Regions from separate parts of the Homo sapiens genome. Here region 2 is linked to region 1. Evidence: fine-mapped expression QTL. A gene starts in region 1. The other region holds a variant in brackets. All regions are shown on one strand. Distances are from middle to middle.

Region 1 (4,394 bases):
TAGAAAATATAAGGGGTGGAGGTATTTAAATGACATAAAAGGGATGCAATTAGCAAAATCTAAATGTGGAAAACTTTACAGGACAAACTTAGTTTCTTCAACAAAAACAAAAAATTAAGTAAAAAAAGGGGAGAGAAGACTTACATATTTAAAGAGATCTAACAGACATATTGACCAAATGCAGTGTATGTAACCTTATTTGGATCAAACAAATGAATTGCAAAAAGATATGACACAATCAATCAAGGACATTTGAACAGTGATTGAATATTTAATGATATTCAATCACACACAGTTTTTGGAGTATGATCATAGCATTGCAGTTATGTTTATTAAGAGTGCTTATCTCTTAGAGGTACACAAAGAAATATTTATAGATGAAAATACATGATGCCAGGCCAGGCATTGTGGCTCACACCTGTAATCCCAGCACTTTGGGAGGCCAAGGCAGGTGGATCACTTGAGCCCAGGAGTTCGAGACCAGCCTGGCCAACATGGTGAAACCCTATCTCTACTAAAAATACCAAAATTAGTCAGGTGTGGTGGTGCGTGCCTGTAGTCCCAGCTACTCAGGAGGCTGAGGCAGGAGAATCAGTTGAACCCGGGAGACGGAGGTTGCAGTGAGCTGAGATTGTGCCACTGCATTCTAGCATGGGTGACAGAATGAAATCCTGTCTCAAAAAAAAAAAAAAAAGAAAGAAAGAAAGAAAGAAAATATACAATGCCTGGATTTCCTTTAAAATAATCCAGGGAGGGGAGAGAGGGTGGAGGCTATAGATGAGATAAAACTGCCCATGAACTGATACTTCTTGAAGCAGCGTTGATAAGTATATTACATGATTCTTTCACATACTATTACTTTGTATTTTTTTGTATCCAAAAGTTTTCATAATCAAAAGTTAAGATATATCATCTAAAATCTGAAAGATTATGCACAAAAATATATGAAATCAGTGTGAAATTACACTAATACATGAATACTTTCCTCCTTTCCTTCTTCTTTTTTTTTTTTTTTTGAAACTGAGTCTTGCTCTGTCACCCAGGCTGGATTGCGGTGGCTTGATCTCGGCTCACTGCAACCTCCGCCTCCCAGGTTCAAGTGATTCTCCTGCCTCAGCCTGCCGAGTAGCTGGGACTACAGGCATGTGCCACCACGCCCGATTAATTTTTTGTATTTTTAATAGAGACAGCATTTCACCATGTTAGCGAGGCTGGTCTTGATCTCCTGAGCTTGTGATCCGCCCGCCTGAGGGGTAGGTGAGGGGAAGAAAGCGGACAGTGAAAAGCAAGGAACCCAGCTAATGGAGTACCCAGACAGCCTCTCTCCTCCGCACAGCTCTCCACCTCCACCCAGTCCCCCATCTCCACCCAACATAGCTCAGTTTCCCAGAGAAGCTCCCTGGAAACCGGGAGGCTGACTTCTTCACTGACTGCAGATCCACCTGAGGCCACCTGGCAGGTGAATCGGTGGCCTTTCTCCTGGGCCCGACTGCCTGGTTCCTTAAGGCTGTGCTGGGCTAGCCTGGGTCACTCATCCTTTGGAGTGTGGCTTCTTATGCAATGTCCTATAAAGCCAGGCCTGAGCCTCCACAGGCCCTCTGAGATGGAGCTGGCCTCCGGGGCTGCCCCACCCAGCAGCTGTGACCTCCCACTCCAGATCCTGGCTCCTTCTCTCTTGCCAGCTCTACTCCGGGCATCGAGCTTCCCTCTCTCTCCTTTTTGGTCTCTCTCAAATCTTTCTCTTTTCTTCAATATCCTCTCTCCCTCCACCCCTTGCCATTTTAATCACTTTTTCTCTTTCCTTCTTCTCTTTTGTCTCTCAAACTCCTTTTTCTTTCTATCTTAGTTCATATCTGTTCAGGGGAAGCCTCTTTCTGTCTCAGCCTCTCCTTTTTCCTTTTCACTGTGTATTCTTCCCTATCTCCTTTATCTCTCCGTTGCTCTACTTCTCTGCCTTTTTCTGAGTCTGTTTCCTCTCAATCTTTCTCTCCATCCCTCCCTCCCTGCATCTGCCTCTCTGTCCATCTCGCTGCTGTGTCCAGCTCTCTCTCCGTCTCTCTCGCTCATTCCTTCCTCGCCATCTGCGGGTCTCCCCGGCTCCAGGTCCCCTGCCGCGCCCTGCGCCCCACTCACCGGCCAAAGAGCCCGCGGCGCGGAGCAGGGCCAGTCCGGTCAGCGCGCAGAGCAGGGGCCGCATGGTGCCGGCCTGGCCGAGCGCAGCGCCGCGTCTGCCCGCAGCCGCCCTTCCCGGATCGCACCCGGCCGGCCCGAGAGGAAATGCACTCAGTTCGAGCCAAAATTCCTGGGCGGCTCCGGACTTTCTGGCTCGAGAGAACCCGCCCCCTCCAGAGGCCCCTCGGCACCCCGTGGGCAGCGCGGAGCCCAGAGACCCCGGGAGCTGAGGCACCGACGTGCCACCTGGGCGCCTCCCGAGGAAGGGGCCGCCCCCCGAGTCCCCGCACCTCCTGGGAGCCCGGGAGGGAAGGCGGGGCGGGGGGCATTGGGTGAGGTCTTGGGCTCAAGGCGACCGAGCCTGGGGTCAGGGGTTTGTTACGAGCCAGTTTCACAGGCGGGCAGACTAAGACTCGGAGGGAAGTGTCTTCCTCGGCATCACTCTCAGCCATAGCACAGGATCTGAACCCCTGTCTCCTGGGAGTTTGGCAGCTTTTCTCTGTCTACCTACGAACAAGAAATTAATTCTAATTACATGGAACAGTGTCTGCCCCTAAGAGGGAGACCCAGAAACTCACTGCTCTGGTAAGGGAGTGATAGAAATATGAAAAGGTAATTTTAAAAAGAAAAGGTAAAATCGTAACTCTCGCAAAGATATGAAATTAGCATATACTAAAGATTTTATTCAATTCATTATTAATGAGGGGATAAGTAAGATGGTACAAGCAGCCCAAAGTTTAGAGCACAGTAGTGGAAACTTCCCCTATGGGACATGCCCATCCAACAAGTGCAACAACAAATTAAGTTTTAGTAAAAACACAAAGCAAAAAAGCTGTAGCTCTAACTTCTCTGCTGCAGAGCCCTGAGTGAGTGTCTCGTCTGGCTGTAAGTGGAACACATTCATCACCAAGCCTGGGAGAATGCCTTTGTCCATCAAGGGTCCCCGTTGGGATTACCTGGAGCTCTTGCAGATCAAGGCTGCCTCTCTGCCTTCTGTGTTCCTGGCTGTGGCTATGCAATTGTCCAAAACAGTTACCACGCTAACCAGTGATCCAGTTCTCACTCCCTCCTCCAGAGCAAGATAGTAGCCTCAGACGGAGAAATTCTGGTTCTGAGCCCGAGAATCTGAGACAGACTCAGATCTAAATCTTTTAAAAGCCTTCAAGGAGATTATGATGCCCACATGAGCTGGCTCAGAAGAAGAATTTATTTCAGGAATGCCAAAAATTTCTCACGCTTGGTGGTAGGACATTCCTTGATAGTTTCGCCAGGTGGGAAAAAAAGTTGTCAAAGAACTGCCCAACTCATAAGGATTCTTGTAGCTTAGAGCCAGTGGGCTACCTTATATTTTGAATTTAAGACTAAGAAAACACACACACACACAAAAACATATACAATACATTATTGTTGCGGTAGAGCATAAAGTAATTAAGTATACAGAGTAAAACATGAAAGTCTTTTCTGTTACGAATTCCCTCCGTCCAATGATTCAGGTCCAGTCCCCTCAACTTGGTAGGCTCTGCCTGTTCCACGTCTATGCATTCCCCATCTACCTAATGTATATTCAGACACAAATGTATATACATGAGATCAAGTCATAGATATTTTGAAGATTTGCTTTCATTCATGTTTATCTCAGTCATAACATTAAATCTTGGCTGGGTGCAGTGGCTCACGCCTGTAATCCCAGCACTTTGGTAGGCCGAGGTGGGTGGATCACCTGAGGCCAGGAGTTTGAGACCAACCTGGCCAACGTGGTGAAACTCCGTCTCTGCTAAAAATACAAAAAATTAGCAGGGCGTGGTGTTGGGCGCCTGTAGTCCCAGCTACTCAGGAGGCTGAGGCAGGAGAATCAGAACCCAGGAGGCGGAAGTGGCAGTGAGCCAAGATTGCACCACTGCACTCCAGCCTGGGCAACAGAGCAAGACTCCATCTTAAAATAAAAGAAAATAATCTTGGAGATCAGTCTATGTGGGTACAGATAAATCCACTTCATTCCTTTTAAGAGTTAAAATATCCCATGAATGGATACAAGGAGCATTATTTATCCAAACAGTCCCCTATTGACAGACATGTAGATTGCTTCCTTTTTCTCTCCAATATAAAATAAGCTTTAATAAACATTCCTTTGCATATATCTTCATGTACGTAGTACATATTCCTGTATGTACATATTTCTGAAAGGCTGGAAGAGGAATCATTGCGTCAAAGGCCTTTTACAT
Region 2 (4,394 bases), 150 kb after region 1:
TCCTTCCTATCTGCCTTTTTGGGAAAGTGATTTTTTCTCATGATATGTTTTAATTTCTTGTTTTATATTTTTTTGTGTATCTGTGATTTGAGGTTACCACAAGGCTTGCAAATAACATTTTATAACCCATGTTTTAAACTGTTGACAACTTACCTCTTATTGCAAAAACAAGCAACAAACAAGCAAAGAGAAAACAAATAAAACTCTACCCTTTAACTTCATTCTCCCACTTTTTAACTTTTTAGTTTCTATTTATATCTTATTATACTTGCTGTGTCTTAAAAAGTTGTTATACTTATTATTTTTGATAGGTTCATTTTTTAGTATTCCTACTCAAGGCATTAGTATTTTACACACTACAATTACAGTGTTATAATATTCTATATTTATCTATGTACTTATTGTTACCAGTGAGTTTTGTATCTTCAGATTCTTTTTCTTTTCTTTTTTTTTGAGATGGAGTCTTGTTCTGTCACCCAAGCTGTAATGCAGTGGCATGATCTCAGCTCACTGGAACCTTTGCCTCCTGGGTTCAAGTGATTCTCCTGACTCAGCCTCATGAGTAGATGGGATTACAGTTGCCTGCCACCACACCTGGCTAATTTTTGTAGTTTTAGTAGAGACGGACTTTCACCCGGCTGGCCTTGAACTCCTGACCTTGTGATCCACCCGCCTCAGCCTCCCAAAGGGCTGTGATTATAGGCGTGAGCCACTGCGCCCAGCCAGATGTCTTATTGCTTGTTAACATCCTTTCTTTTTTCAGATCGAAGAACTCCCTTTAACATTTCCTGTAGGATAAGTCTGGTGTTGATAAAATCCCTAAGATTTTATTTGTCTGGGAAAGTATTTCTCCTTCATGTTTGAAGGATATTTTCACTGGATTTAATATTGTAGAATACAAGTTTTTCCTCCAGCACTTTACATATATAATGCCACTCTCTCTTGGCCTGTAAGGTTTCCACTGAGAAATCTACTGCCAGATGTGTTGCGCCTTTATATGTTATCTTTTTCTTATATCTTGCTGCTTTTAGGATCCTTTCTTCATCTTTGACATTTGGAAATCTGATTATTAAATATCTTGAGGTAGTCTTATTTGGGTTAAATCTGCTTGGTATCCCATAAGTTTCTTTTTCTTTTTTTCTTTTTTTTAATTCAGGTGTCCTTTTACTGCCGGCAACCGAGAGATGGCTAGAGCTCAAAATTCTCTCGGCCCTGAAGAAGGGGCTAGATTTCTTTTTATACTGTGATCTAAATAGGGGATGGGGAGCCTAGCTGAAGCAATTTTTACGGAAGCAGAACAGGCAAAAAGTTTAAAAAAATTAATGGTTACAGAGATAGTTACAGAAATATAAACAGTTCCAGGTGCAGGGGCTTAAACTATCACAAAGAGATAAATGCAGGGGCTTGGGTACCATCCACTGAGCACATCCCCAGCAGCTGCTGGTACAGCTTGCCTCAATATCTTATCAGTAAGTGCATTCCTGGATGTGCTTGGAGTCAGCTTGCACTAGTTATTCCCCTAAGGGAGGGGGGATAAGGGGGCTGCAAGTGAAGAAGCTAAAATGGAGTCTGTCCGGCTCTCTCAGCTAAGAGAGAGTCACTCAGGTTAAAACAGGGTAGGGTATCACAGATAGACAGTTGATATAATTGATAGATGATAGATTACTTTTATGGGTCCTCCCCTGTCCATTAAGACTGAAACTGTGTGTGATTATGTTTCCTTGAATCATTACCACTTTTTTCTTCCTAAGCGTGTTACCTTCCTATTTCACCATAGAAACTTTCAATATTTTGCTCAGAAACTCAGGGCTTTTGGGTACTGCCCTCCCACTGTCTAGTTTTTGTGCTTTCTTTTGGGGTCCTCTCTGGAGGCCACAACCATCTTTGGGGCATGCCCAGGAGAGAAGGAGGTGGATCTAGTTCCCTTAGAATGGCTTTGGTGATGCTCTTTGCTGCAGACAGACTACAATCTGCTCCAACATCCCTTCCCCCTTTCTTTTTTCTTTGC[C/T]TCCCCTCCTCTGCCACATCTCTATTCCTCCCAGCCTTTCTCCACTCTTCTGTACGCCCATCATTCTCCTCCACTTCCAAGGTCACAGGCATCACCATGTAAGCCTCCCATCCCAGATAAGCAGCCTCCAAGATGACCCATGATCCCCACCTCCTTGTATGTACATCGTTGTGTAGGACCCTTCTGCACTGAGCAGGGCTGAGCTGTGTTAGCACTAGGATATATGGGAATGACAAGGTGGCATATGACTTCCAAAGTTAAGGTCACTTTGCTGTCTCGGATCACTAAGGCAGCTATCATGTTGTGAGGAGGCTCAAGTTGTCTTGTGGTGGGTCCCTGTGGCAAGGAACTGAGCTCTCCTGCTGACAGCCAGCAGTGCCTTCCCAACCATTAGAGTGAGTCACCTTAGAAGCAAATTCTCCAGCTCCAGTGTATCCTTTAGATAACTGCCACTCTGGTCATCATCTTGTCTACAACCTCATGAGAAACCTCAGCCAGAACCACCCAGCTAAGTTGCCTCTGAATTCCTGAGACACAGAAACTGTGAGATAATAAATGTTTACTGTTTTAAGACTCTAAATTTGGAGTAATTTGCTATTCAGCCATAGAAACTAACACTCATTTCATCATGCCTGACACTGATATCGCTACAGTTTCACATCCCTGTGGCTAAAGCTCTCCAAGGGCTCATCATTAATTTCAGGATAAAATCCAAATCCCTTAACATAGAATAGGTCTTTTATGAACTGCCTCCTGCATGCCTCTCAGCCCCATCCGGCCCACTCTGCCTTTCCTCCTTGCATCACTCCAGCTACTCTGAAACACACTGCACCTTCCTAAATGTGGACAGATAAAATTGCCAGACTTTTCATAGGATGCCCAGTGAAATTTGAATTTCAGATAAATAACAAATAATTTGTGTGGTTATACAATATTTGGGACATACTTATACTAAAAACATTGCATGACACATACTTATTCTTAAAAGTTATTATTTTATCTGAAATTCACATTTAATAGGGCATCCTGTACTTTCCGTTGCTAAATCTGGCAACGCTACAGATGCGAGCTGCTCACTTTCACCTCCTGCTCAGTCCCCAGCTGGATCACTACAGCTCCCCCTGACTAGCTCCCTGCCCTGCAAGACTTGGCCCAGACATCAGTGCCCCTAGAAAGCCTAGACTAACTTCTCTGCCCTATACACACCTAGGATGAGTCAGACGTGCCTGCTGCAGGCTCCCGCCCACCCGTCACACCTCTCTCACACCACACACTTTGCAAGTATTTGTTTACCTGTCTCCAGTACTAGACTCTGAGATTCTTGAGGTCAGGAACTGTCTTACTCACTGCGACGTGGCTTCAGTGCCAAAAACATAGTATAATTAGTTTATACTTACTGAAGATTTACTCTAAGGTAGTCGCTGTTCTAAGATGTTCTGCATATATCAACTTATTGAATTTTCATATCAAGCCAAAGGAGGTACTATTAACATCCCACTCTTACTGGGGAGGAATCTGAGACAGAAATAGGTTTTGTGACTTCTCCAGTGTCATTTGAAAATGGCAGGGAAGTTGGGGTTCAAAGCCAGGAGTCTGACTCCAGAGCCCACCCTCTAACAAACTAGACACATTGCCTCTTTACAGTGCATGATAAGTGCTTGCCAAATGCATGTTAGAACTGACTATCCAGCTAAGTTTCTCCAAACTAGATAACTGCCTTTAAGCAGGGACCTTGCTGCCTGTGCCCCTCCCAGCTCTCTCTCCAGTCACCACTACTGAGCACAATGCATGGTGCCTTCTTCACAAGCAAATACCTTCTCCCTTCTTCAAATCCTGACTACAGATCCAGGGTAGCACCATCTACCACACCTCCCTAAAAAAGAATGGTTATAGGCAGGGAGCAGCGGCTCACGCCTGTAATCCCAGCACTTTGGAAGGCCGAGGCGGGTGGATCACCTGAGGTCAGGAGTTTGAGACCAGCCTGGGCAACATGGCGAAACCCTATCTCTACTAAAAATACAAAAAATTATACGGGCATGGTGGCACGTGCCTGTAATCCCAGCTACTCAGGAGGCTGAGGCAGGAGAATCCCTTGAATCTGGGAGGCGAAGGTTGCAGTGAGCCGAGATCGCGCCACTGCACTCCAGCCTGGGTGTCAGAGTGAAACCCCATCTCATATACATATATATATATAGTGGTTACAGCATATGCCTTAGAAATATAAGCCAAGAGAGCACTGTGATTAATACTGTCAGTTCTAGAGTAAAATTCCCTGGGCTTAGATCCTAACTGTACTGCTTATTAGCTGTATGGTTTTGGATGAGGCCCTGAGACTTAGATTCTTCATCTAAGAAATGGAGATGTAGCATCTGGAACACAGCATGTA

Direction of the effects. Alleles are on the strand shown, and positions count from the first base shown. SD is a standard deviation of normalised expression in the study named.
For the expression in stomach of the gene that starts at base 2,230 in region 1, allele T in region 2 goes with a lower level than allele C (small effect, 0.35 SD a copy in GTEx).

Evidence for each region. PIP is the estimated chance that this variant, and not a neighbour inherited with it, causes the effect.
Region 2: its variant is the best candidate, but not a certain one, in a credible set for the expression of PLAC9 in stomach (GTEx, PIP 0.79).

What each region holds. Positions count from the first base shown.
Region 1 is chr10:80,130,566-80,134,959 of GRCh38, reverse strand. It overlaps PLAC9 (placenta associated 9), which reads right to left and starts at 2,230. Exons shown (of 4, transcript NM_001012973.3): 1 at 2,134-2,230. The coding sequence starts at 2,197.
Region 2 is chr10:79,983,886-79,988,279 of GRCh38, reverse strand. No RefSeq gene overlaps it. Among named protein-coding and RNA genes, the nearest start is that of SFTPD, 37 kb to the right of the region's middle. The variant C/T (reference allele first, on the strand shown) is at 2,009.